Homo sapiens: one gene and its partner. The protein of the gene in region 1 interacts with the protein of each later gene in a biochemical or structural test. Each region holds a gene or a part of one and is shown on either strand. Other genes may lie near its edges. The genes, in order: CEACAM5 and CD8A.

What was found.
Region 2: the proteins of CEACAM5 (region 1) and CD8A form a complex in vitro, tested with the Homo sapiens proteins (one large-scale study listed by IntAct).

What each region holds. Positions count from the first base shown.
Region 1 is NC_000019.10:41,725,521-41,728,486, forward strand, and holds part of CEACAM5 (cell adhesion molecule CEACAM5 isoform 1 preproprotein), read left to right. Parts: intron 1-1,713; coding exon 1,714-1,796; 3' UTR 1,797-1,832; intron 1,833-2,966. UniProt on the Homo sapiens protein: Cell surface glycoprotein that plays a role in cell adhesion, intracellular signaling and tumor progression. Mediates homophilic and heterophilic cell adhesion with other carcinoembryonic antigen-related cell adhesion molecules, such as CEACAM6.
Region 2 is NC_000002.12:86,788,114-86,792,660, forward strand, and holds the start of CD8A (T-cell surface glycoprotein CD8 alpha chain isoform 1 precursor), read right to left. Parts: upstream 2,801-4,547; 5' UTR 2,713-2,800; coding exon 2,664-2,712; intron 2,569-2,663; coding exon 2,215-2,568; intron 1,638-2,214; coding exon 1,527-1,637; intron 1,321-1,526; coding exon 1,210-1,320; intron 448-1,209; coding exon 417-447; intron 1-416. UniProt on the Homo sapiens protein: Integral membrane glycoprotein that plays an essential role in the immune response and serves multiple functions in responses against both external and internal offenses. In T-cells, functions primarily as a coreceptor for MHC class I molecule:peptide complex.

The DNA of each region.
Region 1 (2,966 bases):
CACCAAGCCTGGATAGTTTTTTAAAGAAATTTTGTAGACACTGTGTCTGCCTATGTTGCCCAGGCTGGTCTTGACCTCCTGACCTCAAGTAATCCTCTTGCTTGAGTCTCCCAATGTGCTGGGATTAAATGTGTGAGCCGCTATACCTCCATTTTCATTTCTGATTTTAGTAATTTGAATCTTCTCTCTTTTTTCTTAGTCAATCTAATAAATGATTGTCAATTTTGTTGATCTTTTTTGAAGAACCAACTTTTGGTTTCATTGATTCCTTCTATTGTTTTTCAATTTTCCATTTTATTTATTTAAACTCTAATCCTTATTATTTCCTTCATGTACTATCTGTGGTTTGAGGTGGTTCTTTTTCTGTATCCTGAAGTTGTAAAGTTAGGTTGTTGATTTGAGATCTCTCTTTATATTTAATGTATTTACCATTAAATTTCTCACACAAGATTCTTAACTTCTCTGAGCCTTCAATTCTTCAACTGAAAATTGTAATAATTCTCATCACCAGGAAATGGAGGAAAAATGAAAATTGCAATAAGAATGACTGTTTAACAGTATTGTTTTAAAGATTTAATGTAATATTCGATTAAGCTTTCAGCAAAATGCTACACACAGAGGGAAACTTCATAAATATTAGCTGCTATTATCACTACTGTTATTATTAGCTTGAAGTTAGGCAGTTCTAGAGCCAAATCCTAGATCCACTTCTCACTAATTATATGACTTTGGATAAGTTTTTTCACCACTCCAAGTCTCTGTCATTTCATCTGTAAGATGGAAATCATGCCTACCCAACAGGGTTATTGTATGGATCAAATGAGATGCCAGAAAAGCATTTACAGTAGCTAACATAGCATTAATCATCAGCCTGAGTTGACTAGTGAGAGCCAAGCCCCAAATGAAAACCCACTAGGACATGGTTACTGGCTAAAAATGGGGGAGAGAAAAAAAAGTTAAGTGCAAAGAATCAAGCCTGGTATGTTAGTTTTCATCCACTGAGATTCAGCCAAGATGGAATTAGAGGTGCAAGATAATTTACCGGGGGGAACCACCATGAGGAAAAGTGGAGTAGAAGTGGGAGGAGCCTGAGAGAGCCCTCAGACCACGATGCAGATCTGATTCCTGAGAAGGAGAAAGAGGAGAGAGTTTTAGATAGTGATGCAGTTCTCAGAGTTTCCACAAGGCTGGTGGGGCGTCCTCAAGCCCCTCACCCATGAGAGAGAAGCAGAGTCCCCCAGAACTGGGCTTTTCATTCCCCTGGTGGGAGCCCATGAGAAGCGAGTTCTCTGTGCAACGGACTTAGTAAATACAGAATGCACTAGCCTGGGCCTTCTGCCAATCAAGTCCCTGCCACAGAGACCCAACAGACTTATTTATGCCTACCACAACTGAGACACTGAGAAAAAGATGCAACCATGAAAAGATAGAAAGTTCTAATGACACGCAAAAATAGCAATCAGACTTTCTCAAATTTCAAAGCCTTCAGAAATAGCTGAGTGCAGACAGGCCAGGGTGGAATTGACAGAAGACTGATCACCAACTAGCAACACAGTGAGAGAGAAAAAATTGCAACTTTCCCACAAAACTAATGCATTCCTTGAAGCAACAAGTAGAGACTGCTTCATGCTGAGAGCTGGAACCTGGGGCACCCCACTGTAAAATAACATCACATTCATTCCTTCTCTTTTCTTTCCATGACGGACGATTCAGCATCTGGAACTTCTCCTGGTCTCTCAGCTGGGGCCACTGTCGGCATCATGATTGGAGTGCTGGTTGGGGTTGCTCTGATATAGCAGCCCTGGTGTAGTTTCTTCATTTCAGGAAGACTGGTAGGTATAATGGCCTTTCCTCTTGTTCTGTTTCCTGCAGTGCTGACTGCCATGCTTGGGAGAGGGAAGGGATTTCTTCACCTGTATCTGGGACTGGATCTCTTCCTCCTACCCCCAAGCTCCTGCTTCTCAGCACTAATTCCTGCAGGTCTCTTCTTCCCTGGTCTTCATGCTCCCTGTACGCCACTGTCTCTTAGATATAATTATCCCCACCCTCTGCTCATTTGTTTCCCAGATTCAATACATTGTCAAAGCCTCTTGGTCCTTTTTTAACATCTCACACTTGTGTCATTCTCTCCATTCCCATAAACCTCAACAACTGCTCAAAGTCCTGCTTGACCCCTTGTTGCCAGTCTTTGAAATCTTTCTTGCATATGACTGCCTCATTACCTTCCTAAAATCTAGTTCACTCGCCTACTCAAGAAGACACAGGGGCCTACTGTGGTGTATTAGATAAGTTCACATTTCTTCTCTTTACTAATCTTTTTTACTTCCTTTACCACCACTCCCTTATATAATTCCATCATCCTAATAGATCTGTTTCCCTACACATCCCTGCCTCTCCACCCCACATGTACACAGAATTCTTAGTTCCGGTGTTACACCTAAAAACATGTCAAACAGGGTGACCTCCTTCCACTGTCTGCACTGTGGAGTTACCCACACCCTTAATCACAAGCAACTTCTGACCTCATGAAGAACAAAGACTGTAGCATTAACCTGTGAGTCTTAAGCTCAGGACACAACTGTGCCTGTGACTGAGAACCTTTTCCTGATAACCAATTCATATGTTCATAACAGATACAGAAATGAAGAAGGCAAGGTCCTTAATTCTATAACAGGAGACAAAACCTGAAAAATAATCATAATGCCAAAATAGAAAGGAGTGAACATCACAAGAAATTAGAGAAATCTGACGGAAAATATAGCTACACATTGGAATCACTCAGAAACATTTTATAAAATGGATACTTAAGTCCCACCGATAAATTCCGATTTACTGGTCTGGAGTGGGACCCAGGCATTCGTAATTTTTAAGCCTCCCCAGATGCTACTAATGTGTAGCCAGGATGGAGAAACCCTGTTCTAAATAGGTAGGACTTGGGGCTAAACCCATGACTTTCAGCTAGGAGG
Region 2 (4,547 bases), on another chromosome or scaffold:
AAAAACTAGACCAGCCAAGTAGGAAAAAAAATTGTTTTCTTAAGAAAACAACAAAACCCAGATGGAATAATCAGAATAAAGAGGAGGTCAGGTCCTACGAGGAGCTAGGATAAATTGGGGGAATCCCTCAGGTTTTTTTTTTTTTTTTTTGGAAGTGCCAGGTCAAATAAGATGGAGATTTACTGGAGTCACACTGCTGTTGGCACCCGCCTAACCCGGGCCTCCTTTTTCTCAAAGACACAGGCCAGATGCCAGCCTTGGCCTCTCTTTGCTCAGGAACTGGCTGACTCCCTGCCCCAGGATTTCACGGCCATGACCTCTCTCTGGGAAAAGTTCCCACTATTTGCTGCTGGGGAAACCAGGACCCCACCCCAGGGCTGGCCAAGGTGAGCAGGCTGAGTTCAAAAGAGACTCACCGGGGACATTTGCAAACACGTCTTCGGTTCCCTGGATAAGGAAAAAGAAGGGAAAAAGTGAGTGCCCCTATCCATCAATAGTCCCCAAAGACAGTGTATTTTTTGTTGTTGCTGTTGTTGTTGCTGCTGTTTTTTGGTTTTACAAAAAATCATTTCAGAACGATCATGGGCTGAAATTGGATGAGGCAAATAGGGAATTGCCTCTACGAATTCTCCTTCCTTTCCCCTATTTCTTTGAGGATTATAACTCTTGAGAGCCGGGTAAGGGCTTCTTATCCATCCTTCGTCTCAAGCATCAATTAAAAAAAATTGCAACTACAGACGCGGGCGAAAGCGGGGAGCCTGCAGACCTGATCCGGCACCTCTCTTGCATGGGACCCAAAGCAGGGTGGGCGGTTCGCCGAAGAGGGCCAAGGACGAACCTCAAACTGATGGTGGTTTTGACTAACCCTCCTGGGCACTTGACTCGGCCACAGCGGCCCCCTCCCGGCGGGCGTTTGTCATGTGTCCAGACATGTGCGCGCGCGCTGCGGGCTTCGTCGACGGAACACACCCGCTGCAGCGGCTCTGGGAACGCGGCTTTGTCTCCCAAAACCTCTCCGAGAGCGCAAGGAGCGGGAAGGGCTTTCTCGCATTCTATCTCCCAGAAAGAAGTGCCTGTACCTGCGGGGCAGCTCGGGAGTCCCAGAAAACTCAACCCCAAGCTCCCCCCTCGCAAGGTCCGCCTGGAGCTAGCAGAGCCAAGGGCAGGAGCGGGGCCGACTCCTTCCCGCCGCGATTCCTCGGGACTTACTGTGGTTGCAGTAAAGGGTGATAACCAGTGACAGGAGAAGGACCCCACAAGTCCCGGCCAAGGGCGCCCAGATGTAGATATCACAGGCGAAGTCCAGCCCCCTCGTGTGCACTGACGACACCAAAGACGCCGACATTTAGGAGAGGGCCCGGGACCTCCCAACCGCCCCACCGTCCCGGGAACGTCTCTCCGCCTCAGATCTCGGTTTCCCACCACTTGGACAGCCCTTGACTCTACCTACAGTATCAGGGCTGTCCCTGGCATGGGCTCTCCCCGCGGTGCGTGCCGCCCCCGCCCCGGGCCCCCGCACGCCTCACCTGCGCCCCCCGCCGCTGGCCGGCACGCCTCTGGGCGCAGGGACAGGGGCTGCGACGCGATGGTGGGCGCCGGTGTTGGTGGTCGCGGCGCTGGCGTCGTGGTGGGCTTCGCTGCAAGAGCAACAGAGCGTGGTTGGGGGCCAGGCTGGGGTTATGGAGGCGCCCCAGCCCCGGCCTCGCGCACCTTTCCCCACGGGGACGCCTCCCCCCGGTTTTCCTGGGAGAAGGGATAGCAGAGGAGACAGGATGGGGACCCCGGGATGCGCGCGGACCCCTGTGCTCGGGCCTCGGCTCAGCCCAGCGCACCCGGCGCCCAGAGCCGGAGCGCAGGAGCCAGCTCCCCTGCACCTGGCCTCTCTCCCGGGCTGAACCAGCAACCCTGGAGCGCGGGTTGATTGCTGTCCGCATTTTACCCACGAGCAAACGGAGGCGCAGATAATTTAAGTCATTTGCCCAGAATCACACAAGAATCCGAACTCGAGTCCAGATCGGCCGGACGTAAAAAGCCATCCCCAGTCCCTACTCAGCCTCGCGTTAGCCTCAGTTTGCTGTGTCTGTGAAATGGGAACAGTATCTAAGTCGCTTCCAGGTGCGCTAAGAGGCTTGAAAGCAGGGCCCAGGTGTGGAAAACAGGTTGAGGTGAACCCCAAGCCCCACGCGGAGAGGTGCCGCAACCCGGCGCGCGGACCTGGCAGGAAGACCGGCACGAAGTGGCTGAAGTACATGATGGAGTTGCTCAGGGCCGAGCAGAAATAGTAGCCCTCGTTCTCTCGGCGGAAGTCGCTCAGGGTGAGGACGAAGGTGTCCCCCAACCTCTTGCCCGAGAACCGCTGGGTGTCCAGCCCCTCGGCCGCCTTGGGCTTGTTTTGGGAGAGGTATAGGAGGAAGGTGGGACTGGCGGCGGCGCCGCGCGGCTGGAAGAGCCACGAGCAGCCCGACGTCGGGTTGGACAGCAGCACCTGGCACTTCAGCTCCACTGTCTCGCCCAGGTTCCAGGTCCGATCCAGCGGCGACACCCGGAACTGGCTCGGCCTGGCGGCGTCTGCAGGCGGCAAGCAGCGAGGCTGAGCCCGCAGTCCCGCGCCCCCCGCCCCCCGCCCGCCCCATCCCCTGCCTTCCCGGGCGTCTCAAACTCACGGAGCAGCAAGGCCAGCGGCAGGAGCAAGGCGGTCACTGGTAAGGCCATGACGCGCTCCCCAGGACGCTGCTTGGCTCGAAGCTCGGGCGCGAGGGGAGGCGCGCGGGAGCCGGTGGGGCGCCGAGGGGGGAAAGTTGCGCCCTTCGGCCGGCCCGGAGCCTGATTTCGCATTTGGAGGATGTGATGTCACCCGAAGCCCCCGCCGAGGAGAGTCACCCTCCTTTTCGCGGTTGTCGCCTTCCAGCCCGGCGAGGAGGCTGGGGCCCGTGAATAGGGCCGTCGAGGCAGCCTGGCCAGGCAACTGGGGGCAGCTGAAAACTGCGGGTTTGGGGATGAGGAAAAGGGCTTGGAAATAGTCCTTGGAAATGGTTGTCTTGTGAGAGTGACAGAGTGGGTGAAGGGAGACCAAAGATTTCAAGAAGTGAGGGCGAGAGTAGGCAGCAAAGGAGGGGAGTGTCCCTTCCTTTGCCTTCACTAAAGGCGTCTCTTGTACTGTCACCTTGGGACTTTTTATTGGCAAAATGGGCACTGAGGGCTGAAAAGGAAGAGGAACTAGCGACCTGCCCGCTTCTGAGGAACTCGCTAGAGCAGCCCCAGTTTTCACCGAGGAAGGACCCTCTCCCTTCCCCCAGGAGATTTCCATGAGAGCGGCAGCAGCCGAAGCTTTGGGTGTCGGTGTCAGTGCGCTGCTGACCTCATTCTTCCGGCCTTTCATCCAGCGGCTAAACTCACCACACAGCCTCATCTCTTCTTGGAGCCATTGCAACAGCCTTCAATTCACACCAGTCTCTCTCCTGATCAGTCCTCCAGCCACGTTGTTATAAAAATTATTATTCTCACAAAGGGGATCTGACAGCGTCACTGCTGCAGCCTCCCATGGCCTGCATTGCTGGATGGAAATTCAACCCCCAGCTTGGTTGACCAGCCCTTGGGTGCTGGCTCCTCCCAGCCTCCGCACAGCCCCCTGCCCTGCCTTTCCCATACACCTGCAGCTGCAGCTTCACAGGCTTGAAGTCATTCAACCCCTGCGCTCTGTGCTTTCACGCCCTTGCACTTGCGGTCCCTCGGCCTGGAATGCTGGTCTGTTTAAGCCCTGGAGGCAGCTCCTGTGCTGTCTCATTTGGACCTCATTTCTTTCACCCCCAGCTCTGGGTGCTCTGCAGGGAGGTGTGGGTGATGTGGGTGAATGCTTGGGTAGAGGCGGTTTTCTCTTTTCTGTCCCTAACACATGTGTGTCCCCTTCCTTTTTGTTTCTTTAAAAAATAAAATAAAATAAAAAAGACTGGAGTCTCGCTGTTTTGCTCAGGCTGGCCTTGGGACTCCTGAGCTCCAGTGATCCTCCCACCCCAGCCCCCTGAGTAGCTGGGACTACAGGCTCATCTTTCCTTTTTGACTGTTGCTGTCCTGAAACCTTCCAGCTCCAGTGGCATGCCCTCTTCCCATTTCTTCAGGGTTTCTGAGTCTTTCCACTTTGAATCCCATAGTGGCTGCACCTCACATTGCTACTGCTTGATCCTAGAGACAAGACACCTGGCATTCTGTGTTCCATGTGTCTGCCCCACCCATTAGTTCTGCTGGGCGAGGACCATGCCGAGACTTCATGATGTGTCCTCCATCCCCAGAAACACAGCATGGGCTGAGCTGTGCTTGTTGAACTGCATTCTCCTTGTCCTTGTGAAGTACAAACTTAAGTGTTGGATGGGTTCTTTGTCGTTGTTGCTATTTTTTTTTTTGAGATGGGGTCTGGCTGTGTTGCCCAGGCTGGAGTGCAGTGTGGCACCACCTCGGCTCACTGCAGCCTCTACCTCCCAGGCTCAAGTGATCCTTCCACCTCAGCCTCCCAAGTAGCTGGGACCACAGGAGCACACCACCATGCCCAGCTA